Homo sapiens: one gene and its partners. The protein of the gene in region 7 interacts with the protein of the main gene of each other region in a biochemical or structural test. Each region holds a gene or a part of one and is shown on either strand. Other genes may lie near its edges. The genes, in order: SLC2A1, CNTNAP2, TNRC6A, TRIM29, RPS6KA3, TTC24 and SNTG2.

What was found.
Region 1: the proteins of SNTG2 (region 7) and SLC2A1 interact in a test that uses a peptide from one of them, tested with the Homo sapiens proteins (one large-scale study listed by IntAct).
Region 2: the proteins of SNTG2 (region 7) and CNTNAP2 interact in a test that uses a peptide from one of them, tested with the Homo sapiens proteins (one large-scale study listed by IntAct).
Region 3: the proteins of SNTG2 (region 7) and TNRC6A interact in a test that uses a peptide from one of them, tested with the Homo sapiens proteins (one large-scale study listed by IntAct).
Region 4: the proteins of SNTG2 (region 7) and TRIM29 interact in a test that uses a peptide from one of them, tested with the Homo sapiens proteins (one large-scale study listed by IntAct).
Region 5: the proteins of SNTG2 (region 7) and RPS6KA3 interact in a test that uses a peptide from one of them, tested with the Homo sapiens proteins (one large-scale study listed by IntAct).
Region 6: the proteins of SNTG2 (region 7) and TTC24 interact in a test that uses a peptide from one of them, tested with the Homo sapiens proteins (one large-scale study listed by IntAct).

Annotation. Positions count from the first base shown.
Region 1 is NC_000001.11:42,927,869-42,931,368, forward strand, and holds part of SLC2A1 (solute carrier family 2, facilitated glucose transporter member 1), read right to left. Parts: intron 3,339-3,500; coding exon 3,178-3,338; intron 2,999-3,177; coding exon 2,758-2,998; intron 2,168-2,757; coding exon 2,005-2,167; intron 1,913-2,004; coding exon 1,725-1,912; intron 1,447-1,724; coding exon 1,342-1,446; intron 1,166-1,341; coding exon 1,064-1,165; intron 1-1,063. UniProt on the Homo sapiens protein: Facilitative glucose transporter, which is responsible for constitutive or basal glucose uptake. Has a very broad substrate specificity; can transport a wide range of aldoses including both pentoses and hexoses.
Region 2 is NC_000007.14:148,418,320-148,421,783, reverse strand, and holds the end of CNTNAP2 (contactin-associated protein-like 2 precursor), read right to left. Parts: 3' UTR 786-3,464; downstream 1-785. UniProt on the Homo sapiens protein: Required for gap junction formation. Required, with CNTNAP1, for radial and longitudinal organization of myelinated axons.
Region 3 is NC_000016.10:24,735,922-24,740,036, reverse strand, and holds part of TNRC6A (trinucleotide repeat-containing gene 6A protein), read right to left. Parts: intron 1-4,115.
Region 4 is NC_000011.10:120,113,903-120,118,017, forward strand, and holds part of TRIM29 (tripartite motif-containing protein 29), read right to left. Parts: intron 3,159-4,115; coding exon of another isoform or gene 3,057-3,158; intron 1,513-3,056; coding exon 1,436-1,512; intron 1-1,435.
Region 5 is NC_000023.11:20,151,295-20,155,409, forward strand, and holds part of RPS6KA3 (ribosomal protein S6 kinase alpha-3), read right to left. Parts: coding exon 4,104-4,115; 3' UTR 75-4,103; coding exon of another isoform or gene 43-74; 3' UTR 1-42. UniProt on the Homo sapiens protein: Serine/threonine-protein kinase that acts downstream of ERK (MAPK1/ERK2 and MAPK3/ERK1) signaling and mediates mitogenic and stress-induced activation of the transcription factors CREB1, ETV1/ER81 and NR4A1/NUR77, regulates translation through RPS6 and EIF4B phosphorylation, and mediates cellular proliferation, survival, and differentiation by modulating mTOR signaling and repressing pro-apoptotic function of BAD and DAPK1.
Region 6 is NC_000001.11:156,578,236-156,582,522, reverse strand, and holds the start of TTC24 (tetratricopeptide repeat protein 24), read right to left. Parts: upstream 2,801-4,287; 5' UTR 2,765-2,800; intron 1,163-2,764; 5' UTR 1,159-1,162; coding exon 453-1,158; intron 293-452; coding exon 89-292; intron 1-88.
Region 7 is NC_000002.12:1,237,124-1,241,238, forward strand, and holds part of SNTG2 (gamma-2-syntrophin), read left to right. Parts: intron 1-764; coding exon 765-894; intron 895-2,614; coding exon 2,615-2,653; intron 2,654-4,115. UniProt on the Homo sapiens protein: Adapter protein that binds to and probably organizes the subcellular localization of a variety of proteins. May link various receptors to the actin cytoskeleton and the dystrophin glycoprotein complex.

The DNA of each region.
Region 1 (3,500 bases), on a different chromosome or scaffold from region 7:
AACAGAAGCTACAGAGGCCAGAGCAGAGCTATGCGAGAAGGCAGGAAGCCTGGGGATGGTCCTGGATTTGTTGTGTATCCAGCATTGGGCCTAAGTTTCCTCATCCGAACAAAATGATTTAAGTCCTGCAGGGTGGCTGCAAGTGTTGAGTCCACCCGCTGGGAGTGGTAATGTGGTGTGCATGTGGACGGTGCTAAGAGGCCCCATGGTCCCCTGTCTGTGCCTGCAGCACAGTCCGCCTGTGGCAGGATGCAGAACATTCCTGGGGGTGGGGTGGATTCAGGTTCTAAGGCGTGTGAGGTGCCCAGCTCAGGCTGGCACAGAGTAAGCGCTAAGCATACGGTTCTGCATATAACCATTCTTGAGGAGGCCAGGGTAGAAAATTTATGGGCTTTCCACTTGCTGCCTGTCTGGCCTTTCGGCAACCACCAAACTTTCCAAGCCCAGGTTGAGCTGTAAAATGACAGTCATGGTGCTTTCCTTGCCCAGAGGCTAAATAAACGAGTGCCTGTGTGTGAGTGCCAGGCACAGGGTTAGCACAGCGGTCACAGTCACAGGCCTGGGACTGAGGTTGATTCCTGGCTTCATCCTTTATCTGACAAGTTACTAACCTCACTGGGACTTAAGCTTCCTCCCCCATAAAATGGGAAGAACTGAACTACACCTCCAGTCGTGTGAACTGAATGAGGCAAGGCATGTTTCTGCGCCTCTATGGGGAGGACAGCACTACTTCCCGGGGTTGCTGTGAAGATGAATTGAGGCTACAGATGAAGATTGGAAAGGGTTAATATTAGGCAAAGCAATTCCTTAAGGAGGTGAGAGTTTGGGGTCTGGGACCAGAGGTGCTGCGCTGAGAATCCATCAAGCAGGGAGGAGCAAGTTCAAGAGAGGATGTGTGTGGTTTGGAAGGAGACAACTTCAGGAGCCAGAAAGTCAGACCCACAGCCAGGGAGAATGCAGCCACCAAAAGGCCTGCCAGCCTGGGGCTGAGACAGGCATTTTGGGATATGAAGCCCAGGCAAACTCTCCCGCATCCCTCACTCTCCAGAACCTAGCAACTCACCAGCAGTGCTAGCGCGATGGTCATGAGTATGGCACAACCCGCCATGCCAGCGAGGCCTATGAGGTGCAGGGTCCGCCGGCCTGCTCGCTCCACCACAAACAGCTGTGGGCAGAGACAGTGTCAGTGCCACCCCTGCCTAGTGCCCTTCTGAACCCACCCACCCAGAGGCCTTGCCTCAAGAGCTGAGAAAGTCACAGGGCACTGCAAAGACCAGTGGGGAAGATGGCACTGCCTCCTCCCTGGGGTTTGGCTGGGGGGGCCAGTAAGCAAAGACTCACCGACACGACAGTGAAGGCCGTGTTGACGATACCGGAGCCAATGGTGGCATACACAGGCTGCTGCACCCCCGCCTTCTCGAAGATGCTCGTGGAGTAATAGAAGACCTGCCAGACAAGAGAAACTGTTGGGGCCTACCTGGACATTGTGGCCCTTCCCTGCCTCTGTAGCAGTGGATGTGGGACCCAGGATGAGTAAAGAATGAAGGGGACAAATACTCAGGCAGAAGGGACACTGCACTGCAGTGACCTTACGGGCTTGGGGTCTAAAGGGAAACTTCTTCGGCAGAGGCGTATCTGTTGTTTCAAGTTTGGGACTTGTTCACCATGCACACTTGACCAGAGGGCTTGGCTGGGGCACAGGAAGGGTGGGTGGGGGCACTCACAGCGTTGATGCCAGACAGCTGCTGGGACAGCTGCAGCACCACAGCGATGAGGATGGGCTGGCGGTAGGCGGGGGAGCGGAACAGCTCCAGGATGGTGACCTTCTTCTCCCGCATCATCTGCCGACTCTCTTCCTTCATCTCCTGCAGGTCATGGGTCACGTCAGCTGTCCCGCGCAGCTTCTTTAGCACTGGGGGGACCGGAGGGAAGGTGAGGGTGGCTCAGAGTGGGAAGAAGGCCAGGGCTCAGGGAGTGGGGAGGAGGGCAGGGCCATGCCCGTACCACTCTTGGCCCGGTTCTCCTCGTTGCGGTTGATGAGCAGGAAGCGGGGACTCTCGGGGCAGAAGGGCAGCACGATGCACTGCAGCAGGGCCGGGATGAAGATGATGCTCAGCAGCAGGGGCCACAGGTCCTTGTTGCCCATGATGGAGTCCAGGCCGAACACCTGGGGGAAGCAGGGGCCGTGAGCGCCTCTGCCCTGACCCCCTTTCCCACCCCGTCCTGCCAGAGTGGCCTTCCCTACTTTGTGTCAGCTGCTGCTTCAGGGAAGGGCCCCAGTTCTAGAGGCTCTGCCACTAGCATGAGCCCTGTTTCTCAGTTTCCTCATCGGTCACATGGGAAAAGTAGGACCTACCCCACAGTGTTGCTGGGAGGACAAATGACAAGGCCACAGATGTGTCCAGCACAGAGAATGGGGGCTGCTACTCTGCCACAAGAGGGTTTTGGGGACAGGGAAGGGGAAGCCTCCTGGAGAGAGGGTACTGTGCATAACAGCCTGCGGCATGTTGGGGGAAGGCGGGCCCTGTGGTTGGAAGCCTAGAGTGAGAAGAAAGGGACTGAGAAGAGTCAAGTCATCTTGCTGTCAACTGGGAGGCCATGGTGCTGTGTTCTCTGGACCTGTGTACCATAGTTGTCCTCTGCAAGGCTGTGGGGGCTGGGCGGAAGAGAAACTCTGCCCTGCTGGGCACAGATCCGAGAGCCACTGAAGCTGTGGGCAGGGGCCGTGCCAGGCAGGTAGATCCTGCCCCAGCTTACCTGGGCGATGAGGATGCCGACGACGATGCCCAGCTGGTGCAGGGTGCCCAGGGCCCCACGAAGGGCTGTGGGTGACACTTCACCCACATACATGGGCACGAAGCCTGTGGTCAGGCCGCAGTACACACCGATGATGAAGCGGCCCAGGATCAGCATCTCAAAGGACTTGCCCAGTTTCGAGAAGCCCATGAGCACGGCGGACACGAAGGCCAGCAGGTTCATCATCAGCATTGAATTCCGCCTGGGGACGGGGTCACAGGTCAGGCCAGTGCCCACATTCCTTGGGCTCCGAGGGGCTGGGTCAGAGGTAATACCCTGGAACAGGCAGATAAGTCTCCCCTACCTCCCACCCCATCTGGGACTCCCTGGGCAGGAGGGCATGGGCCCTCCAAGGGCAGTGCCAGGACCTCTCCTACTTACCGGCCAAAGCGGTTAACGAAAAGGCCCACAGAGAAGGAGCCAATCATGCCCCCAACAGAAAAGATGGCCACTGAGAGGGACCAGAGCGTGGTGAGCGTGGTGGGCAGGATGCTCTCCCCATAGCGGTGGACCCATGTCTGGTTGTAGAACTCCTCGATCACCTGCAGGGGGAGATGCAGCCTGGGTGAGCAAGCCAGGGGCCAGGACCCAGTCTTCCTTTTCCTTTCCCCTTGCACCCCTCCCTAAGAGAGGGCCAGGGCCTGGCTCTGCCACAGATTCACTGCATGTTCTTGAGCCAAGTCCCTCTATTTTTGTGGGCCTCA
Region 2 (3,464 bases), on a different chromosome or scaffold from region 7:
CACCCTTAGGTCAAAACAACTCTGATGTTATCATACTTACTGTAAACCCTACCCTTAAGCAATTGTCTTACACATCCCTTCTTAAGTCTGTAGACCCTTTCCCTATGGTGGATAAGCCCTGGGTCCAGGGTGTGGGGGGCATGGGGGGGTAACAGTGCAGGCATTCATCATCTGTCTAGTGGCTGCCTGAGACATGGCCTCTGTTTGTAATTCCCTATGAAATGTTTCTTTCTGAGAAATTGGAATTCTCAGCCTCTTTCTTTGGCCTCTCAGCTTCCTTGGTTTGCAGGGGTGGTTTGCATAGAGCTGCTCGCTGCAGAACAACTAGCAAGTGAGAGTAATAACTTAGCTCTAAAAGCACACGGAGTGCATTTAGGAAGCTTCGCACCTCCGATGCATGCCGAGTCCTTGCTGTCTAGTTCCCTGGCTTGGATCCATGTGCCCACTATCCAGTGTTACTCCCTCATTCCAAATAAGGATCAGAATATATTCTGGAGATAACTGAACTCGAACCACATTTTATCAAGATGGGTGTAAACTAACCAAAGTCAATGTCTACTAAGCCACTTTAAGAAAAACTCCTCTTTTAACGGGGAGCTATTTGTGGTAGGAGGTTAACCATGGACGTACCCAAATCAGACCTTTTAGGAGTGACTATATCTCCACAACTTGTGGAAAGACGATATTCTCAGTAGGCTTATATTTCAGTGCTTGGAACTTAACTTTTGCTGAAGGTTGAAAATTGCTCTTAAGAGAGACAAGTGGTACAAAACACGAAGAATCGCTTTTAGGATAATTAAAACTACTTTGAATTTTTTATTTATCAATCTGGTTTCTAATATAATTTTAGTTAAATGAAAGACATTCACAAAGAATATTAGGCATACGTACATAATTTCCTTCTTTCATTCTAGTTTACATGCTGTTGCTTTTAGAGAGTGAAATTTTGTGTTATTTCACAGGGGATGGAATCCTGTTTGACTTTACAGAAAGAATATTTAGCCCAGCTTTTCACAGCACTAACCTCTGCAGTCACCACGCTCACTGAAAAAATTTAAAAAACCTGACAAAATAAAACTTAGTAAAATCTAGAACTGTTTCTTGGCCTACTTGAGAGGAACTTCCATATTTTCACAGCCATCTCCGAAAGCAGCAGTTGCTGTAAATTAACTGAGACTTGGAAATGGTGCAGACTGTCTTGGTAGAGCTGTTCTTATAGCACAATTTTATCTGGAAAATAAACTTGTAAATGCGTGCTGTATATTAATACATGTGTGCCCATATTTATTTTTATTATCTCCTGCCAGTCTTTGCTCAATGGGAGATGACAGACCAACTTCTCAACGTGATTTCCCCATTTCATTGAATGACATTTATATGCCACTTATGAAAAAAAATACTGCTGTGAAAGAAATGTACTTTAAAGTTTGCAGCACTACCATGCAGGGTACATGGAGAATAGGCATATAGCCACTAGGCTACATGAACACGTCACGTTTGTATTTTGTGTTGGCCTATGTATAAGCCAATCTAGCATGTTTGAGGGCATGTGTGAGAGTAGGTAAGGGAGCTGTAAGTTACATTCAGGTGGGAATTTAGGGCTTTCTGCACAAAAAATTCTAATTTCTCTGTCCTTTTGCTATGTTGCATCTCCCAGTGTTGACAGGTTAGTCTGCATGATTAATAACTGAGCAGCTGTAGAGCCATGCCAGTAAGTCTCCAATTCCTGAACGTGGCCACATTTGTCTTTTGATGTGACTTTCAACCACAAGCCACAAAGTAAGTCTTTCACTAGGCTCCGTTGACTTCAGTCTTTATATAAGGGTTTCAAGGTATTTTGCAGTCAAGAATCAATGGCACCTCGCAACTGTCTTATGAAGTAGGTAAAACAGCTCCATCTTAAATACGGGACAAAAGTTCGAGGACTTGACCAAGGTCACACAGGGAGGGTCCCACCAAGGCAGGGAGAGAGAAAGGGGATGCTGTCAGCTAATTCTCATGGTCCACTCTTAACCAAAACATCATTTAAAAAATGGGGCTGGCTCGGCACGGTGGCTCACACCTGTAATCCCAGCAATTTGCAAGGCCGAGGTGGACGGATCACTTGAGGTCAGGAGTTCGAGACCACCCTGGCCAACATGGTGAAACCTGGCTTCTACTAATAATACAAAAAAAAAAAAAAATTAGCTGGGTGTGATGGCGGGTGCCTGTAATCCCAGCTACTTGGGAGGCTGAGGCAGGAGAATCGCCTCAATGTGGGAGGAGGAGGAGGTTGCAGTGAGCCCGAGATTGCGCCAGTGCACTCCAGCCTGGGGGACAGAGCAAGACTCCGTCTCAAAACAAAACAAAAAACAACAAAAAAAAGCGGGGCGGGGGTAGGAGCCATTGGTTCTTAGCTGAAGTCAGCTGGGGACATTGTTACTGTTTGTTTCGCACTGGTTTAGGATCAGGTGGTTCTACTGGGACTAGCAATTTAGGACCTATCTTTGGCTGGCTTACTTGAATTCAATTTAATAATTGCTGCCCTTTTTTTGGGAAAATTGCTCAACAGGGTGGTGAAAAGAAAAAATGGGGGGTTTCAAATTCAGTGTTGTTTGGAGGCATGAGACATAAACGGGCCATTAAAACGTTTACTGCGTAAGAGCAGGGTATAATGTGGTGAGGAGAGGAAGAGAGAAAAAAGTAGGATAGAAAAGAACAGATTCCATCATAGAAGGAAAGAAAAGCTTCTTGACACAACCTGAACACTTGCATGTTCAAGTCCCACAGCTGTGTGCTTGTTCCTGAAGTGCTTCCAATGGCTTCGCCTGTGCCCAGCTCTCAGCCTGCATATGGTGGCCGCTCAGCAGATTTTCAAAAGTAACATTAAGACAGACTCTTTGGCTCATGCCAATGCTTTTTCTTGTGCCTCTGAATTCCTGCTCTTGTTAGTAAAGGATGCTTGTTTGTCAAATGCAGGGCAGTAGGACATTTTCTAGGAATGGCTCTCTAAATTCTTGTTTTCAGCTCTTTAATGAAAACTTTCATGTAACAAGTCTCTTTTTTTGAGCAGGTGGTTGAAAGCCACAAGGGGAAATACATTTTTAAATATTAAGAAGGGCCAGAAAATAATTTAACAACAAAATAGCTTTTTCAACCTCCTGGACCAGCTTTCTTGAGCTCTAGGGAATATGCTATTTTGAGAGCTTAGGATCTCACTAACCTTGCATTCATTCAAAGTCATCTCCTAGCTTTTTTCAAAACATCGACATTTGCTTCATACACAGAAGATGTTTCCTGCACAACTTTAAATCAGCCACCAACTTTCCCTGAAACTTTAAAACAGTCTATTTTTTGTCGTTGTTGTTGTCTATACATATTATTTAAAGAGGCTACTACCAGCATACTTGTGCTTGCTTGATAATGTATTGGAATGTAAGATGTCAAGATTTTGTGAGATGTGAATGACAAAGCAGGATTAGGCA
Region 3 (4,115 bases), on a different chromosome or scaffold from region 7:
ATGAAGCTGGAATTACTGGATAGTTACATAACAAGAATGACATTGGAGCCCTCATGCCATATGCAAAACTTAACTCAAAATGAATTACAGAACTAAACATTAAGAACTAAAACTATAAAATTATTAGAATACAAGTAAATCTTTGTGACCTTGGATTTGTTGCCAACAACACAAGTAACAGAAAAAAATACTGGTAAACTAGATTTACAAAATTTTAAATTTTTGTGCTCAAGGGACTTCATCAAGAAAGTGAAAAGAGGCTGCATGCGGTGGCTCATGCCTGTAATCCTAGCACTTTGGGAGGCAGAGGCGGGTGGATCATTTGAGGTCAGGAGTTCAAGGCTGGCCTGGCCAACATGGTGAAATTCTGTCTCTATTAAAAATACAAAAATTAGTTGGGCATAGTAGTGGGTGCCTGTAATCCCAGCTACTCAGGAGGCTGAGGGAGGAGAAACGCTTGAACCTGGCAGGTGGAGTTTGCAGTGAGCTGAGATCATGCCACTGCACTCCAGCCTGGGCGACAGAGCAAGACTCTGTCTCAAAAAAAAAAAAAAAAAAGTGAAAGGAAAAGCCACAAAATAGGAAAAAATACCTGTAAATCATATATCTAATAAGGGACTTGTATCTAAGCTATATAAAGACCTTTTTCAATGACAAAAAATATCACCTAATTTAAAGATGGGAGAAGAATCTGAATGGCCACTTCTCAGATCAGATATACGAATGGCCAATAAGGACATGAAAAGATGCTAATCATCATTAGCCATTAGGAAAATGTAAATCAAAACCATAATGAGATACCACTTTACATCTATTAGGATGGCTAAAATCAGAAACAAGAACCCTAACAAATGCTGGCAATGGAAAGGATGTGGAGAACCTAGTGCCTCCATACATTGCTGATGAGAATGTAGAACTGTGCAGCTGCTTTGCAAACAGTCGGGCAGTTCCTCAAAAAGTTAAACAGAGCCTGAGCAACACAGTGAAACCCCATCTCTACAAAATATAGAAAAAATTAGCCAGGCGTGGTGGCATGCACCTGCAGTCCCAGCTACCTGGGAGGCAGTGGTGAGAGGATGGCTTGAGCCTGGAAGGTGGGAGGTTGCAGTGAGCTGAGATTGCACCACTGAACGTCAGCCTGGGCAACAGAGGGAGTCCGTCTCAAAAACAAAACAAAACAACACAAACAAAAGTTAAACAAAGTTACCATATAACCCAGCAATTCCACCCCTAGGTATATAACCAATAGAATTGAAAATATATGTCCACACAAACATTTGTACATGAATGTTCATAGCAATATTATTCATAATAGCCCCAAAGTTAGAACAGCCCAAATGCCCATTAACTGATGAACGGACAAACAAAATGGGCAATAGCCATACAATGAAATTTATTTGCCCATAAAAAGGAATAAAGGATATATGCGACATGATGGACGAACCTTGAAAACACTACACTAAATAAGACAAGTCACGTACAAAAGTATCATATAGTATGATTCCACTTAAACGAAAATAGGTAAGTCCATAGAGTTATAATAGAAAGTAGATTAGTGGTTGCCAGAGGCTGGGTGGAAGGGACAAATGGGGAGTGGCTGCTATTATGGGGTTTTTGGGTGAAGGGGTGAAAATTCTAGAATTAGACAGTGGTGCTGATTGCACAACTCTGTGAATATACTAAAAACCATTAAATCATACACTTTGTGGACTTTAAAAGGGTGAATTTTATCATATGGGAATTTTATCTGAATAAAGCTGTTATTTAAAAGTTGAGAGAAACTGAAAGGTACATTCAGAGAAGGAAGAGTTAGGGACAGGGCAAAAGGTGGAAGGGACAGTGCTAAATTGATAAGCTGAGCAAAAAACAAGAGTCTGGGCTTTAATTCCAGAGTCACTGGGAAGGAGCCAACAAAGGTTTCTAAGAAATAGTGACTGACAGGCCTCAGAAACGTGGCTCGAGGACGATTAACCTGCAGCAGTGTAGAGAATGCACATTTTATGACCCTATCTTTGTAAGATTTTCACTATATGCCTCACATTGCAAAGAGATTCACAAGTGGAATAACATATAAAACATATTTCTCTTACATCAGTTATACAGTCAATTATCAAGGAATAAATGATATTTAAAAGGACATTTAAAATCAGCACACACTTAACTACCATTCTCTCCCGTCTGTGCACACATGTTTTAGGGAAACTTCAAAAGAATGGGAGAAAGAAGGGACCAAAGTCAACAAAACACAGACGTCATAACTCTAAAAATATTCAATATTATTGCAGCAAACTGCTCAATAAGTGCTCCCTGACTGAAAACCACTAATAAGAACAGCAAAACAACTGAGTTGGCTTAATCTTGTTTGTTATTATACAAAATCCAATCAGTCACTGTTTGCAGAAAATATCTTGTAAGGTTCAAAGTATAAAATTCTTCAACCAGGTTTCAATCTGTTTTGAACATTCCATTTGAAACGGGAAGTCAGCTGAGTCATCATCACATAATATACTACTGCTAAAAATTCAAAATGCTTTTCCCTAGTTACAAGAGTGGAAATGCTAGGATTTCTCCTTCATAGCCAACTCAAACACACAGAGTATGCAAATCATTTTTAAAATAAGACATCTTAAATAGGAAATTTAAACTATATTTATTTTCATGGGTGGCTTTTTTTTAAGATGGAAAGAAGCTATGCCTTAGTCGAATATTACTTCCTTTTGAATCTCAAACATCTTCCTCTTATTGATACTATTCAGCTCCTCTGACAACCTCCTCATAAAGAAGCAGTTTCTTAATCTTTGAGGAGTAATGACCCTTTGAGATCTAATGAGCACTAAAGACCATATCTGCTTTTGTTGTGGGGTTTTATTTTTATTTTTATTATTTTATTTTGGCATACATTCAATTTTGCAAACCACTTCATAACACCTGTGGTCCCTCTGTGGCATCGGGATGAGAACCCTTGGTCTGGTGGCACCGTGCCACTCTAATTTCAATGGGGCATTCTTTTAAGAAAGCGTATTACAAGCCCAGCCCCAATGTTTCATTTTCCTACCAGGGTTATCAGTTCATCACTGGTCAAAGCTGAAAACAAGCAACTTTTATGTCCCACAGTAAGGGAGCTACCTTTGGCATAAATCTTCATAAAAGCAGTAATCATTATGGCTGATCGATTTAAATACAAAGACCTGTAATTACTGTAACCTCAAATATTTAAAATTACATCTCGGTTTAAACCAATTGTTTGGCATTTCCTAAAATGAAAGAAACACCAAGTCAGTGTAGAAGTAAGAATATTGGATAACCTTTCGGTTAATTTACTTCAAAATGCTGTGGGGAGGGAATACTGAAGACAAACACATCATCACCTATGGGATACTCCTGCCAAAAAGGGTCAACCTGAACCTAATCATACAGACAAGACCCAAAAAATGCAAATTTCAGTCTGCAAAAACAACTAGACTGGACTATTTCAAAATGTCATTGTCAAGAGAGAAGCAGAAAAGGGCAGGAAAATGCTCCTAATGTAAGAGAAACTTCAGACACAACTAAATGCAACCCAGGATACAGCAATTGAGTGAAAGAACAAATACAACTTTAAAAAAAATTTTGAGAAAATTGGGAAAATCTGAATAGGGACCAGACAGAATTGTAAAGTTAAACTTCCTGTGGGTGATCATTTGATTGCTGTCAGGTAGAATGCCCTTATTCTGTGAGATACCTACTGCCATACTTTGGTGTGCAATGTCACGATAGAACAAATGTGGCAAAATATTAATAATCACTAAAACTAGGTAAAGAGATACAGGTATTAGTTGCAACATTTTTCCAATTTTGCTTAAGGTTAGAATGATTGATTATTTATTTGAGACAGAGTTTTGCTTTTGTGCCCAGGCTAGGCTGGAGTGCAATGGCGCAATTTCGGCTCACTGCAACCCTCGCCTCCCAGGTTCAAGCGATTCTCCTCCCTCACCCTCACAAGTAGCTGGGATTACAGGCATGTGCCACCACACCAGGCTAATTTTGGTATTTTTAGTAAAGATGGGGTTTCACCATGTTGGTCAGGCTGGTGTTGAACTCCTGACCTCCAGTGATCTGCCCACCTCGGCCTCCCA
Region 4 (4,115 bases), on a different chromosome or scaffold from region 7:
CAGGGCAAAATGCTACCTTCACCCTCCCATCCCCTCCCTGGCTTGAGGTCACAGCACATACAGCAGGTGGAAGAGCTGCAAAATCATCCTAATTATGGATGGGAAAACTGAGGCACAAAGGAATCATTTTTCCTCATGCAAAGTCACACAGCAAGTCAATGAGACAGCTGGGGCCAGCCCCCAGGGAAATTGATTCCCAGCTCAGCTTCTCTGCAGCCCAGCGCCTGTCTCCACTCTCCCAGTGCTGGGTGCCTGCTGGACACCAAAACCTTGCTCTGCCAGGGGCCTCAAAGTGCTGATGAGCCTTCTCTTCAGGGCCCCAGGCTCTGAGAGGGTGGAAAAGTATGTAGTAGGGAGGGGAAGGACTGAGTCTAGAACAGAAACCTTCTTTTTTCTCCCCATATCTGCTTTCTGCAGTCCTGCTGTTGCAATGCCCCTGAGTCCAGCTCCAAATTACATACACGATCACTTAGCTCCCATCCCCAGCAATTAAAGATCCTCTCCAATTAAACCAACCCCAGCCATTCTTTGTGGTCCAGGGCAAATCACCTCTCCTGCTCTGACCTCCAATTGCAAGGACAGCAAGAAACAAGGGCTCCGGCCCTGGTTCCAGCAGAGCTCCTGATGCCATCCACATGCCACGGCAGTGGCCGACTCCTGTAGCAGGGCCTAGAATGGACCTTCAGGAGCAAGGCATTCAGGCACATGGGGGCTCTGCATGTGAACTACAGTCCCCGATCACTGAGGTCTCAGTCAGGGTCAGATATGTCAGATCTAACGGGCACTGGGGATCATCTCAGTCCCCACATAATAAAAAGCAAGGAAGAGTCTCAGAGAGGGTATCTAATTCATCCAGGACCCCACCGTCAGCAGGTGGCCTGGACCCCAAAGCCATGCTTCCCTGTCATGCTGCTCTTCTGATATGCCTGGCCTCGGGTCATTAGATATTGACCCTAAATATATCTATTCCCGACTTTCCAGTCTCTCCCACCCCCACATTATCACCCCAATGGCCTCTATGCTGTCAGAACTGGAGAACTGCCCCCAGGGAGGTGGGACCCATCTCTAGGAGGAGGCCTGTCCTCCCACTGGGCTGTTTTACAATCCCAGAGCTGGCAGAACCCAAGCTGCCATTCCACTAGCATAGGCATCCAACAAGCATTTGCCAAATAAAAAAATCAAGGCTGCCCATTTTATAGATCAGAAAACTGAGGTCCAGAGAGTGTATGCTTAGCTAGTCCCCTGCCCATTAGCCCTGGGTCTCTACTACCCTCTGCTGTGTACAGGTATTCAGGCCACTGCTGCCTCCTTCTCCTCCACCCCATGGCCCAGAGAAGTCCTCCCACAGGCCCTGGAACCGATTGCCTCCAGGGAGCCCCCTTCAGTGCCCAGGTCTCTGGATGTGCCCAGGCCCTCCCGGCAGCACTTCCCTTACCAGCATAGTCTGCTTGCCAGATTTCCAAGTCTGGGGCTGGGCCTTGGGGCTTTGGCTCCGCATGAGGGAGGGATAGCCTGGGAAGACAAGAGATTCAGGTCAAAGGGAGCAGCGCTGGTGGTCAGGGGTGCCCGGGCCCAGAGCAGCACAGCTGCCTTCTCCAAAGTGACCACCAAGCATCATCCAGCCCATTACCAAATGCAGCCGTCTGAACACGCGTGCAGCAGCCAGGGTGCCGCAACCGAAAATCCTGGGGAGGCTGGCCAAAGGGAGGAGGCAGCAAAGCAGACAGAAGGAGGAGGAGCCGGCCAGGTGGGCTGGACCAGGCAGCAGGGGAGTGTTGCCCCCACATCCAGCGCAGCATCACACTGCTCTGCAGGGATTTCCACTCACCCACCCCGGAGGTTTACACCACGGGCCCTCCCCTTCCCAGAGCCCAGGAGCGCCACGCATAAGCATGGCCTGCCAGAGTTTCCCGGCAGGAGGCGCTCACTTGGACTCCCCTGTGCTGTTTGGACGATGCTTCCCATTCACGGAGCCCCACTTGTGCCAAGCACTGTGGAAGGGACTTTGTAGATGTCTCCTCACTGAGCCTGGCCCCGTATCTATGAGCTCAGCAGTCTGCCTGAGTTGCACAGCTCATAAGCAGCAAACCAGGTGCTGGGGAGCACCGCAGGCAGGCGGGGGACAGAGTGCCGGAAATCCAAAACCCAAATTCATGTTTTTTTCTCCCTGGCTTTGTGGCCCCTCCCCTGTTTCACTAGCCAGAGACTAGGGCCTAGAGAGGTGCAGGAATCTGTCATTGTGGCCGCCACCCAGGGTTAGGATGGCAAGCCCAAGAGGCCTGGAGCAGGTGCGCTCTCTGAGCTTGGTTGCAAAGATGCTAGTCTAAGACGGGGCCGCCTTGACTCCCTGCGCCTCAGCCCAGACAGACCTGAAAGGAGCTCTGGTTCACAGCACAGTGAAGGCACTCTCAGTGTCAGCCATCAGCCTGCAGGGACGCCTGGGAAGACACAGGCCATGACCTGGATGCTGAGGCCCTCAAGAAATAAGCAGGGTCTGTCCTGGGCCAGATCTCTGTCCAGTGAGAGGCTGCATGCGGTCTGTCTCGGGAAAGCCCCTCTCCTGCCCTGCTCTAAGCGAGGATGAGCAGGTCAGGCTCATGATGAGCACCGCCAGGCTGCCAGTTGGGTTGGCCCTTCCCAGGTTGGCACTGAGCAAGGAGGAGGGGGAGGAGACAGAGCAAAGAACCTGGGTCTCTTCCTGCATCTGAGGGTGGGAGCAGCCTTGGAAAGGGGGGTTCCAGGGATCCTGAGTGGAGATTAAGAGGGGTAATTCAGGCCTCATCTCTCAGTTCCCAGAAAGAAAATCCCATGCCAGCCATGAGAGAGGGGAGAATGGAAACAGGGGTGGGGTCAGGGTGGCCCAAGACACCCGCCTTGTGCAGCAGGCAGAAGTCCAGATAGAGAGTATGCTGGGGTGGCAGGTGGGGCATGCATCCCTCTCCAGGGAGCTCTGGGGAGAAGGGACCGGCACACCCTAGAAGTGGCAGAGAGCCCCCCATGTCCCACCTGCCCCGCTGTGGGAGAGAAAAGGGGAGGGATGGAAAATGGGCAGATACCGGGATTATTTTTAGACAGCCCACTGCGACCCAGTGGTTTGGAAAACTCTGCAGTGGCCTGTCCCAAGGTGGTGAACTGATAAGGGGTTTTCCCAGTGCCTGCTGGGAGAGAGAGAGGCATTAGTGGCACAGCGCTGGTCCCAGAGGGGCCAAAAGGACCCACACCTCATTCTGGGGGCTGCTCTGAATCACACCTGAGAGCGGCCACCTCCCCTGCCAGGTGCTCTGTGGGCCAGGCTTGAGCAGAGAGCAGAAAGGCGCCTGCTAGAAGCCAAACAGGCCAAGGCAAGTCCTGGAGCTCCCCAGGCCCGGATCAGAGCTAAGACATGCCCGGGGCTCCTGCAGGCTGGGACCCTCCACCCATAGTCCTGTCTCCTCCCTCTTGCCGGCAGCTCCAAGAATCCCTGTCCTGGGTATAGTATAGGACCCTGGGCCGGAAGGGACAACTGAGTGATGAGGCCTCAGAGACCACTGTTCAGGGGTCTCTCTGCCCTGCATAGCCCCTTTCCCTCTCCTGAGCCCACCCAATGTGCTGATCTTGACTTCCAGGCCAGATGTTTGGGGTGCCAGAAGAGAGACAGGGTTACTCCCACCACAGCCATTAGAGCTGTCCCTGGGATCTTTCAGGAGATACATGAGGGTCTGGGGCCCATAGCCAGAGTCTGGTTCAAGCCTGCCCCCTCAGGATGCCCCCAACCCCAGGGGACAGGAGGCGTCAATCACTCTGCCTTGTCAGAGTGCTGGGAGCACCACAGGCAGGCGGGGGACAGAGTGCAGGAAAAGAGGATCAGCCTTGGGGGGACTTAGGGTCGTCTGGTCCTGCCTTTCCCAAAGGGGCGCCTGCAGGATTGGATCTGCAGGATGCTGGCAGGTGCCCCATGGCCACAGGACCCTAGAGCCAGCCAACGCTGGGAGTTAAATAAACTCTGCAGTAGGAGAAGCAGCATCCTGAGGATCAGAGAGGTCGAGTGCAGGGGGTATGGCATGTCCCCCGGTCCTGACCACTGAGAGCTGTTGTTGCAGCGTGTAGTTAGAGACTAGAGAGCGGTGAAACAAGCC
Region 5 (4,115 bases), on a different chromosome or scaffold from region 7:
AAAGTGAATTTCATTCCTTCATTAATTGGTCTCCACCAATGGTCACTTGGGGAGACCAGCAAAATGTAAGCAACCTGGGGTTGAAAAGAGGACTGTTTTCATTAATTGAAATAAAAATACTGAGTTAAGTCAACTTATCTGTGAATTAAGTAAGGCTCAAAGTATATATCCAGTTTAAAGTTAGTTACATGGCATTGGGCCTTTCAGAGGGACACAACTCTAGGACTAGATTGAAACCTCCTGGTTTAAGCACCAAGGTCAGCCATGGAATCCATCATATTTGTTAATCTGAGAAAACAGACCTTTTCTGAACCTTTACATTCCTGAGCTATCTATCCTAATGCCTTCATAAGTCTCAATGCTCAATCAACCATAAGATAGAATTTTCTTTATAAAATATAGTAAAGCAAACTGAAAAATTATAGGTCATTTTTAAAGGCCAGGAAGTAGAGAATATCAAAGCCATGCTGAGATGGGTATTGCTGGCCTCCATGGTGATTAAGCGCATCCATAGCAAGGCCTGCAAATCTTGAATGCTTTTCTGCTCTCATCCCAGGCTGGGCTTACCTGAGTCCCTTTTCTGCCGAATACATTCTGCCCTCTCTTGAAGCCTTTGCTCTGTTCAAATCTTTCCTGGGCTGAAGGTGCAGGGCACAGCTAACTGGACAGCCCCACCTCCCATGATGTCCCCTGGCCCCAACAGCAGTCACTTCTTAAAAAGAGATGGGAAATGGTTGACCCAAACCCGCTTTTTGGAGTACACTGCATGTGAAATGTGGAAACTCTACAGCATACACACCACAGCTTCTCTCCAGACAATCATAACTGACTTTTCACACACACAAGCTTCATAGCATCTCAACTTTGGGCCTTGTCAAAATTATTACATTTTTGGACTTTTGGGGTTGCTTGTGAATAAATGCATCCATATCAAATCTGTTAAAGTTGGGGGTCTGTTGCATTAGAAATAAGACACCTCTATAAACCAGAAAAAGCTGAAATGATTTATAAAAAACAAAAATTAAAAAAGGATGAAAAACTTACCTTCATTTAACATCATCACTTGAAAGGGAAGATACAAAACACATGGTAGTGTAATTCATACCTTCCAGTACGTGCTTGACAAGCTTAAATTCAATCTCTCATTTTGTAAAAGAGGCCTGATAGTTTAGTTTCTTCTTTCACAATGAAATATCTTTAAGACTGGACTGATACCTTTTGGGAGAAGCCTCAGTAACTGGCAGCACTAATTGGTGAAAGGCAGAAGCCTTTAGGGGCCTCAATACCACAACTGTAGGGGCCTGAATAATTGATGTTGAGAAATTAATGGAAAAGTTAACCCAACACAAGCACTATATTTAGAGCACATCGTTGGCCAAGTTTTTCCACTGTATGTCAAAAGCAATGGAAGAGAATAAGAGGACCACAGATGAAATAAATTTAGGTAGAAAGCCTTCCATTTTGTGAACATATAACTTGCTTTTCTCCAATAAAATTGGCTGCTTGGCTAGGCAAAGAAGGCAATTATCTTCGAAAGAAATAAAAGTTGGCATCACATACCAGTAGAGGACTGCCCAAGAAATATGTAGTTTTTGAACTCAGCTACTGGTTGGTGATCATATGAGGGAAAGGCAGCATGGTGTGATGAGGCGGAAAAAAACAAAATGGGGAGAAGTTAAGGATTCTAGACTTTGATATGTGTCTCAGGTTCTCTACATGCAATATGAGAAAGTTGGATTGGGTAATTTATAAGGATTTATGTGTTTACTTCTAGTTCTAAAATACTATGATGGACAATACTCCTAAGCAATTACGGAGTAGCATCAGTGTAAAAAAATCTGAAAATATATCTATTTCTGCTCAGAATGACATTAACATTTTAAAAGTGACAATAATTTGAGATGACCAAAGTTTGAAACACTGAATAGAGGAGGGAAAAAAGCTCTCTTTCCAGGCAATGGAAAGCAGCTTTTAATAGCATCCATATATTCAAGAATTTGAAAATACTTTCTCTATCTAGACATTCTGATATCCCTCCTATATATTATTTCATTTAGAAGCTAAACTTACATTTGATTTCTATGCAGTAATCATTTTTGTGTCACTTGGGCAAAAGAAATGTTATAGATTTCCCCTTTCTCTTTAATTGCATAGAGGAGAAATTAAGGAATGACAAGTGGATTTCAGGACATTTAGATAAACCACACTCTCTTGGCTTTGTACTCTTAGGGGAAAATTTAAAGCTTCTGTGGCAGGAAAAAAGGTTTCTGATATAAATGGCTTATTACATGATGACTAACAAAAATCTGTATGAGTACATTCTTTTTTTTTTTTTTCCTTCTTGAGACAGAGTCTCACTCTGTCACCCAGGCTGGAGTGCAATGGTGTGATCTTGGCTCACTGCAACCACCACCTCCCAGGTTCAAGCGATTCTCCTGCCTCAGCCTCCTGAGTAGCTAGGATTACAGGTGCACGCCACCATGCCCAGCTAATTTTTGTATTTTTTAGTAGAGACGGGGTTTCACCATGTTGGCCAGGCTGGTCTCAAACTCCTGACCTCAGGTGATCCACCTGCCTCGGCCTCCCAAAATGCTGGGATTACAGGCGTGAGCCACTGCGCCCGGCCTGTAGGGGCACATTCTTGATGAGGTAAGTTAAATCACTTTTTTCTTGCTCATATGTCTTTTACATTACATACTGATGTATGCTAGGCAGCTTGGCAAAGACACAGGTAATAATGGGGACTGAAGTTTCTTTCATCAAATACGATTGTGGAAACTACCAAATTAGATGCAGATAATGAATACTGCAATCTAAGCAGGCCCAGTGGCCATTATGAAAACTGATCATTCCTGAAGTCAAAGGAAGCAGTATGTGGCTATAAATTATCATGAGGGATTCAGAAAATACTCAATGCTGTTCACTTAGCCTGCCCTACCTATAATTTTAGGTTAGAACAGATACTGTTTGATCAATAATGTTTTATTCCCTAAAATAAGAAAGTTTAAATCCAATTTCATACAGAGGCCTTTGGCCTTTATTACATTTAAATTAGTGTTTAATATAGAATATCTATTTAAACATGAAATATCCAATAGGACTTCAATTACCTGTTGCTAAATTTTCCTTCACCCATCTCCTTACCATGACTCTTAAAGGGCTTTGACGTATATTGGCAAAATCCCAGATGATATGCCAAATTCTAAGTATGGATGCTATGTAAGATTAGAAGTGCAAGGACTACTTCCTTAATTAAGGAAAAAAGTACTCTAAGGAGTTGCAAAGTATATGGACTAACTTCATAGGTGTATTCTTGATTTCATGCCACACACATATGATAACTTTCTCTACCATAACAGCTCTCTAGGTTAGTCTGACAGAGCACCTGACTTTAAGAAACAAACAAATGAACGAACCAGTGAAACAGACGTGGGGAAAGATATGTACATTTTGGAAGTATTACATTCAACAGCTGTTCCACAATCTGGCCATTTTTAGGACTGTCCAACAATACTGTTAATCCAGGTGAACTATTTAACCAGATTTAATAGTCAATTGATTAATAATAATAGATTCCAAGTTAAACAAGGCATGTATACATTAAAGAAAGCAGTACAGAAATGTACTGTATATGAACTGTTTACAAAAACATACAAAATGTTGGATGGCACAAGGGATACAGTGCTAATATAAACGGATTGTTTAAGCTAAGTGCTTAACATAAACTGTCCATCCCTATAACTAACAAAGAATATTTAAGGGACATGAAATATTTCCTATAAAAATAATGCTATATGGTGTACTTTATTCAGTGTATTTTTAGGTGGTATTCATATGTTCATTATTTTTCTCATTGATTCAGTGACTATATCTTCATCATGTTTCCATTTTCATTTCTTCCGAAGCTCCAGGAAAATCTAACTTGCTAACAATCATTTAAAGCGAGAAGAGAGGAAAGCAGGAGCAGCAGCAGGAACAGCAGCATTATGGGTACCAGCTGGGACAGTGTGTGCTTGCAGGTGTCTCTCAGATACGTGCTACCTGTCGCCAGAACTTGTGCTATCAGCTTACACCATGGTACCAAATATCTCACTGAGGTCACTTCACAGGGCTGT
Region 6 (4,287 bases), on a different chromosome or scaffold from region 7:
GGCCATCCACCCTTAAGCCTTGGGCCCCTTTTGGAACCCCTTCTTAGTGTCTTAGTCCCAGTCCCATTCCCCGGCCCCAGGCACCCACCGTGTAGGTCAGCAGCCTTCTGGTGAAACTCCCGAGCTTCCTGATAGTTGCCGAGGGCATTGTGGGCCATCCCGAGGTTTCTTAGCACTGTGGCCTGCTCTCCTGGCACCCAGCACAGGGGCAGGGCCTGCAGGAAGGCCTCCACGGCCAGCGGGAACAGCTGGAGCTGGGAGTAGCCCAGGCCTAGATCGTTATAGAGGTGCCCTAGAGGGAATAGCCAGGGTCACTGGTAGCCAGACCAGATATAAATGAGGCTGGTACAGCCCCTATCGACTCCTCCAGGGTTCCCCAAACCCAGCCCTCTGAGTATCATCAGGCTCTGTGTCTCCCCAGATCCCATGCCTTCCCTGCCCGAAGGTCTCACCCAGCAGTCGCCTCTCAGTGCTCCTCTCGGCAAGCCTCCGGCTTTTCTCCAGCACCTGCACAACTTCCCCCACCCGATGCCGCCCACTCTTCAGCATACATCCTGCCGCAGCCCCCAGTGCCAGGGCTGCGGCCCGCAGCTGTCTCTCTTGAGCATAGGCCTGGCTTGCTTCCTGCAGGCAGTGGGCTGCTAGCTCAGGCTGTCCCAGAGCCTGGTAGCAGGCTCCCATTTTTGCCCAGGCTTCTCCCTGGTCACCCTGTGGCTGGTAGTGGCCCAGGGCCCTGTGGTACCAGGCCAAAGCTTGAGGCAGCTCGCCGAGGGCATGGTAGGCCAAAGCCACATTGAAACATTGGTCGCCGTGTCGCCTGCCCTGTGCCTTCTCTTCAGGGTGGGCTCGCAGGAGTAGCTCAAGGCCTCTGGCTGGGTCCCCAGTCTCCACATAGGCAGCCCCCAGGTTGAAGGCGCAGGCCTGGAGCACAGGGGTATCCCTGGTTTGTGGGGCCTTGGAGGCCAGAAGGAAGGCCCTCTGGAAGTTGTTCAAGGCTTCATGGTTCTGGCCAGCCTGAAGGGCCCCATGGCCAGCCCTGGTGAGGGCTTGGATGCTGGCTTCTTGCCGCAGCCACTTTCTTTTCTTCTTTTTCTTATTGGAGCTTGAGGGCTCAGGTTCTGGCCTCCGGGGCACATCCTCAGGGTTGGGGGAAGACATAGGGCTGACAAAGGGGAACAGAGGGCTCAGTATGTCAGCCTTGGCTTCCTCTAGATAGCAGGACCCCCTTAGGGCAATTCAGCTCTACCCCTGCCCTAGCATGACCCTCAGGGTTTCAAGGATTGCTCTCTGATCTCTCACTTTGTTTCTTCTGTCCCATTGGGCACCATATCCACTCTCACTCTAACTTCCTGACTAATTCTTAGTCCTCCTTCAAGACTCAAGTCAAGTAACAGCTTACTTCAGAACGCACCTTCTTCTCAACCAACTGGGTACTCCTGTGGTCCCATAGCACTTGATGCCTATGTCTTTTATAGCATTTATCACACTGGGTCAGAGCTGATGACTTTATTGTCTTCCCCCCACTACTAGATTTGGAGCAACTTGCAGGGTCTGGCACACAGTAGATTCTCAATAAATGTTTATGAAAGGAGATGAAAAAGTTCTGGAGATGGATAGTGGTGTTAATTGCACAATAATGTGAGTGTACTTAATGCCACTGAACTGCACATTTTAAAATGGTTAAAATGGTAAATTGTATGTTATGTATATGTTACCACCATACGAGTGTTTTTGGATTGAACAAATAGGCCAGGTGCGATGGCTCACACCAGTAATCCCAGCATTTTGGGAGGCTGAGGTGGGCAGATCACGAGGTCAAGAGATAGAGACCAGCCTGGCCAACATGGTAAAACCCCGTCTCTACTAAAAATACAAAAATTAGCCGGGCGTGGTGGCGGGCGCCTGTAATCCCAGCTACTCGGGAGGCTGAGGCAGGAGAATTGCTTGAACCCGGGAGGTGGAGGTTGCAGTGAGCTGAGATCGCGCCATTGCACTCCAGCCTGGGTGACAGAGAAACTCTGTCTCAAAAAAAGCTGCAAATAAATAGATGAAGGAACCGCATATGCAGGGCCTCTCCTCCATAACTTCCTTCACACTGTGCCTCCACAGACACCCCCCTCACTCATCATCTAGGTACTCCTGCTATCTAATCTCAAGACGTAGTTCAGGTCAGTTCAACAAGCACTCAGTGAGCCCCTGCTATGTGCTAGGAACCACACTAGGCACTGGGGACCCTAGGGTGAGGAGGCTCCTGAATTGGCAAGGAGCGAACCTCCAGGAGAGAAGGATTTTCTGAAAAGGAGTGTGGTGTGGGACAGAACATGCATTTACTGCCCCTTCCCTAGCTCAAGGGGAAGCTCTCTCTCCATTTCTTCCGCTTTCTGTCTGCTGGCTGGTTCTAGGCCCCCAGCCTCCTGCTCTGGTCTCCAGAGCCCTCTTAAACCTGAATACAAGCATCTCAGCAGCTTGTATATCCTGTTTGTATTTTTCCCCTTGAAGGGCAAAAGCTTTTTATGAACTCTCCTCCCAGGAGATGGGAAAAAGAGTGGAAAAGACCCAGGCCCTGGGCTCTTGACCCCTCCCATTTTATCCTTTTTTTCCCCTTTTTTAGGAGGGGCAGGCAGAGGAAAAGCAGTCTCTTTTAAAAGAAATTCCCCCTGCTTCTAAGAACACCCAGAAATCCTGCCTTTTCAAGGCCTTCCACTCCAGGGCATTCCTGACCACCCCCATCCAGTGTGGGGATCCCCACTGCAGGACACCTTACCTCCTTGGGTCTTCTCCGCAGCTGGCTCTCTGGAATGGCCCCTCTGGCTTGGGTTACCTCCCAAGCTGTTAGCTCAAAGCCCTAGAGGTTACTAGACAACCAGGTACCACCCTCCAGTCGTAGGGAATTATTTGAGTGACAGCTCTGAAGCCGTATCTTAGTGCTAAACCTCGGTAGTGCTGCAGACACACCCCCTCAAGTCCCTCACTTCAAGAAATGAATCAAGGCATCAGAGGGGCGCTTACTAGTTACACCCTCAGAAATCATCTACTTCATCCCCTCATTTCACAGAGGAAGGGACCAAGCCTCAGACAGCAGATGTGACTTAACTAAGGTCACAGAGCAGTCACGTAGCTGGGGTTAGACTCTATGTTTTTTTTTGAGATGGAGTCTCACTCTATCACCCAGGCTGGAGTGCAGTGGCGCCATCTCGGCTCACTGCAACCGCTGCCTCCCGGGCTCAAGTGATCAAGTGATTCTCCTGCCTCAGCCTCCTGAGGAGCTGGGATTACAGGTGCACGCCACCACAACCAGCTCATTTTTGTATTTTTAGTAGAGAAGGGGTTTCACCATGTTGGCCAGGCTGGTCTCGAACTCCTGACCTCAAGTGATCTGGCTGCCTTGGCCTCCCAAAGTGCTAGGATTACAGGTGTGAGCCACTGCACCCCGTCTTTTTTTTTTTTTTTTTTTTTTGAGACGGAATCTTGCTGTGTTGCCTAGGCTGGAGTGCAGTGGTGCAATCTCAGCTCACTGCAACCTCTGCCTCCTGGGTTCAAGCCGTTCTCCTGCCTCAGCCTCCTGAGTAGCTGGGATTACAGGTGCCTGCCATCACACCTGGCTAATTTTTGTATTTTTGTATAGACTGGGTTTCCCCATGTTGGCCAGGCTGGTCTTGAACTCCTGACCTCAGGTGATCTGCCTGCCTCTGCCTCCCAAAGTGCTAGGATTACAGGCATGAGCCACCACGCCCAGCCAACTCTAGGTTTTTTGATTCAAGGTGAGTAGCCTAGGGTCCCTTCCACTACACTGTGTGATTGCAAGTTGTTTTTTTTGTTTGTGTGTTTGTTTTTGAGACAGAATCTTGCTCTGTCATCTAGGCTGAAGTGCCTAGATGATCACAGCTCACTGCAGCCTCTACCTCCTGGGCTCAAGCGATCTTCCCACCTCAGCCTCCCAAGTAGCTGGGACCACAGGCATGTGCCACCACACCTGGCTAATAATAATAATAATAATAATTATTATTATTATTATTATTATTATTATTATTATTATAGAGATGGGGTTTTGATATGTTGCCCAGGATGGTCTCAAACTCCTGAGCTCAAATGATTCTCCTGCCTTGGCTTCCCGAAGTGTTGGGATTACAGACTGCACCCGGCATGACCTGTGATAGCAAGCTTTAATGGGGCTTGAGCTGTCCTGGAAGTGAACCCTTTCTCTCTCTCTCTCTCTCTCTCTCACACGCACACGCACGCGCACACACACACACACACACACACACTCTCTCTCTCTCTCTCTCTCTC
Region 7 (4,115 bases):
GTAGAGATGGGACTTCACCATGTTGGCCAGGCTGATTTCGAACTCCTGACCTCAAGTGATCCACCTACCTCAGTCTTCCAACGTCCTGTGATTATAGGCGTGAGCCACTGCGCCCGGCCAATATGCACTATTTTCTTAAGAAAAAGTCTATAAAAGTGTACATGACATTTCTCTTTTGCAAATAGGCATATGTAAAGTATGTTTTTAAAAAATATTGCATGACAGGGAAGAACTACTGAATTTGAGACGGTTGGTTGTTAATACTTTGCCATGATTGAGTTCTCAGCAAGTGGAGTGTCATGGAGCAGTGGAAGGGGACTATGTTCTCCCAAAGCTCCCCTGTCAATCAGAAGCACACAGGTGGTCCTAGAGAAGGGTGGATGCTGAGTGCAGAGGGTGCTGGGCTGCTCCAGCCTCACCCCATCAGGAGCTTTAAGTGCTCCATCCAAAGGGTCTTCGAAAGAATAACCAGTAAGAATCCTGCAGACAATAACTCCAGAATTTCAGGAGCACTGTTCTTTCCTTGACAAAGTGCTTTTCATGTTTCATCGAATTAGAAGTAGCTCCTGTTACCAAGGGAATTCGGGGTTTGGTCTTGGTCTCAGCGAGCCTGCTGACTGTACTGAGGCGCCTGAGGAAGTGGTGCAGTTGCCCCATGTCCTGGGTCCAGGGTAGAGCCCTGCTGAGCATCAGCCTCGAAACTCACGGAGGCAGGCCCGCTCCCGTCGCTGCGGGGCCTCCTGGACAGCTCTCTCCCTCCCCAGGTGGAATGCGTTCGAGGTGCTCGCCCTGGACGGAGTCAGCTCTGGGATCCTCCGGTTTTACACAGCCCAGGATGGCACCGACTGGCTGCGGGCGGTCTCAGCCAACATCAGGGAGCTGACACTTCAGAACGTGAGCACACGGTGTTTCTGAGTCTCTGCTGATGCTCATTCGTGCATGAAAAATAATGGAGACATCATGTTTCTGATGATTTATGATTAACCCGAAACAGAAAATCATGTACTTGTTTCAATGTGTCAAATCTATGTCTAAAAACATTAAAAATGAAGCCATCAGAATGTTTCCAAATCAAAGAGTAAGGCAATGTCTAACAGCTGAGAATTTCCCATCTGGTTTTGTCTTCCTCCTCCCCTCTGTCTGCCTCTGTCTCTCTCCCTCCCTTCCTCTCTCTTTCTCTCCACACACATATACAGAAATAGTTATATGTCATAATTTTATATTTTACCCAAATGCATTGATACAGTGTGACATTTTGAGTTGGGGAAACCTAATTGAGTTAAAAGTATAATTCTCCCAAACATTATGAAGATTTAGAAAAAGGCATAATTGAGCAAAAACATTACTTCTCAAATTTGTACTGCAGTCCCCCAGAAACGAAAAAGTATTCTGTCCCCTTAAGTGATGTTTGATATTAAAAGTCAACAGGATTTTAAAAATTAAAGAAATGAAAAGAGATGGGGTGGGAACGAAGACTTGATGACACGGGCGTTGCCTGGAGTGATGGGTGCCTGGACTCGGACATGGAGCCGTGGCCGCAGCCCTGGCAACTGTGGCAGGACTGGCCGTGCCTGGAGGCGGCCCTGGACCAGCCTTGCTGCCCTTGCTCCCTCTAAGCTGAGTTGCCCTGTAATTGCACTTCGATCCCTGCTCTGTTCCTTCGCAGCCTGGAGGCTGCAGAGGCTGGGTCCAGCTTGCAGACTGGCCAGGCGTGGCCCACCCTGCGGCCCTGCAGATGCACCCGCCCTGCCCCTGCCCTGCCCACCACCTCACGTCTCCCTTGCAACCTCCCTTCTTCCTGTGGCTGCAAAACAGAAGTTAACCTAACACTGGGGGAAGCAGCAATGTGTGACATTTCTCCTGTGAAGACCTCAGGGGCTTCCTTTCTGCAAGCAGAGAAGGAAGTACCAGGACCTTCCTAACATTGTAGTTTTCAAACGCAACACTTTAAATTCCAAAGTTATCTCAATAAATAGGGAAGAAAGGATGGTGCTTGACTTATATTTGCAGAAATGTTTGTGACGAGGAGCGCCCTTCAGTTCTGTCATTTCACAAATCAGCCCTCATAGGCAGGGCAGAGAAGTCAGACACCCCAATATTTCAGAACAGAAATGTGGACTCTGAGCTGCCTCCCGGCTGTGTGGCTGTGGGCTGTGGGAACATTATGATTCTGCACCTCCACTTCCTCGGTGAAATTTTGGAAAACAACATCTACCTCCATAGGTCATTGGGAGAACTAAATAAAAGAAAGAATATCAACTGTGATCACCGTAATTACCATCACAGTAATACTGACTCTCACAAGGTTATGTAGAGCAGAAATCATTTCCTCACTTTTCTCAGATATTGGAATTTAAGCACCTGCTCTTGAAGTGTAACTTCACTTACATAAATGCTGATATTTGAAAAAGAGGAATTGAAGCCTGCTAGTAAAGTTGTTTTCTACTGCTGCCATGTTTGTATTGACTCTGGCTAGGTCTTCAGATAGGAAATATGTCATTAAAGAGGCCTGTTTCCCAGGACAGAGCGTGGCTGATGACTTCCAGCTGTCACTCAGGTGAGCCATCCTGGTGTTGGTGGCTGTGGCCCTGACTCTTCTGCCTTCTCTCCACAGATGAAGATGGCGAACAAATGCTGCTCTCCTTCCGACCAGGTAGGGTTTGTATTTTCTGCTTCATGATGTAACACATCAGGTAGGGTTTGTATTTTCTGATTCATGATGTAACACATCTCGAAAAGCAGTCTCTGGTTTTTTGAAATTTGATTTGAAAATGTTGATAGGAAAACATTAGCACATTTCAGACTGCATTTGGTGGTCTCTGCCCTGCCTGTTAATTCTATAAAACTGCTCTTTCTGTGGGAATAGCATAGGTCATTCTGATCTCCTGTGTATAGATTATTTCTCTATTGGCAGTTATGTTTTGTAAAGAATCGTGATTTAAATGATGATTTAGATATGATTGTTTAAACTGAGAAGGGCTTTGAGATGACACACCTGTGTAATTTGAAATTTTAAGCATTATATTATTTTCTTAAATAAAATCCTTACTAGGAAAGCTTCATTCTCAGGAGGGCTTTGGCCCAGTGGGTGTTATTGCCAGTGGGTAGGATCCTGTCATCCCCAAATCCAGGCAGTTTGTTCACCTGGAGCCCAGAGCCCTTAACGTTGTCCTGGATTCAGGATAGCTACCTTTGTAGCCACCCTCAGGCCTGATTTTCTGCTCACTTCCCACGTCTATGAGTACTTAGGAAAACTCTATGGTAATCAAGCTGTTTCAATATCAGCCAAATCAGTTTTTAAGCCACTGTGTTATTCTTCTGTTTCCTTTATAATAAACTTATGATTTAACTTGTAATGTAAGGGAGTATGTTATTTATAGTTCATTCATTTTCTGGTTACATCTCTTAGGGGCGTAAGGAAGCATGCATCATAGCCTCAAGTTAAGAAAACTGAGAAAAACATGTTCGCTTTGCTTTAAATAGCGCACAAAAGACTTTAAATAGTGCTTAGCAAGAATATTTGAATTCACGATGGAGGACTTGAGAAGAGCAGGTCCTCTGCCTATGAAATATTTACTAAAACAATGGGAAAATAGGGCTGTGTTTTAAATTAAACCTCTCTAGTCAACATTTCTACATTAGAAAAGAAACACTAAGAATAAATGGTTCTTCTAACTTTTATCTCTTTTAATATTATTCTAAAATTACCATCAACTATTTTTGTTTACATAGATATTTTATGATTAATATTTCTATAAATTCTTCAAATTAATATAGGATTCATTTCATATTCTTATACATAAAATATCATTTCCCTACTATGTGTTTTTGAAACAGAAGTTCTGAAACTTTTCCACAAAGTACATATCTCTCTATGGTTCACACAGGAAACAGCCTTTATCAAGGCTGGTGGGACAGTGGGCCAAAGTTTTGACATGATCTCTATGAATAATTTACCATTTTGAAATTGCATCTTATTCACACACGCAAAATTAGCAAAATGTTTCCTGAGATCCTCTTTATGGCAAAGCTGAGACTCTTCCGAGATCTTAGGAGGAGCCGCAGCTTCTGGTATTTCTCAGTGTTGGCTGCTTCTTCCCTGTTTCTCAGTTTGT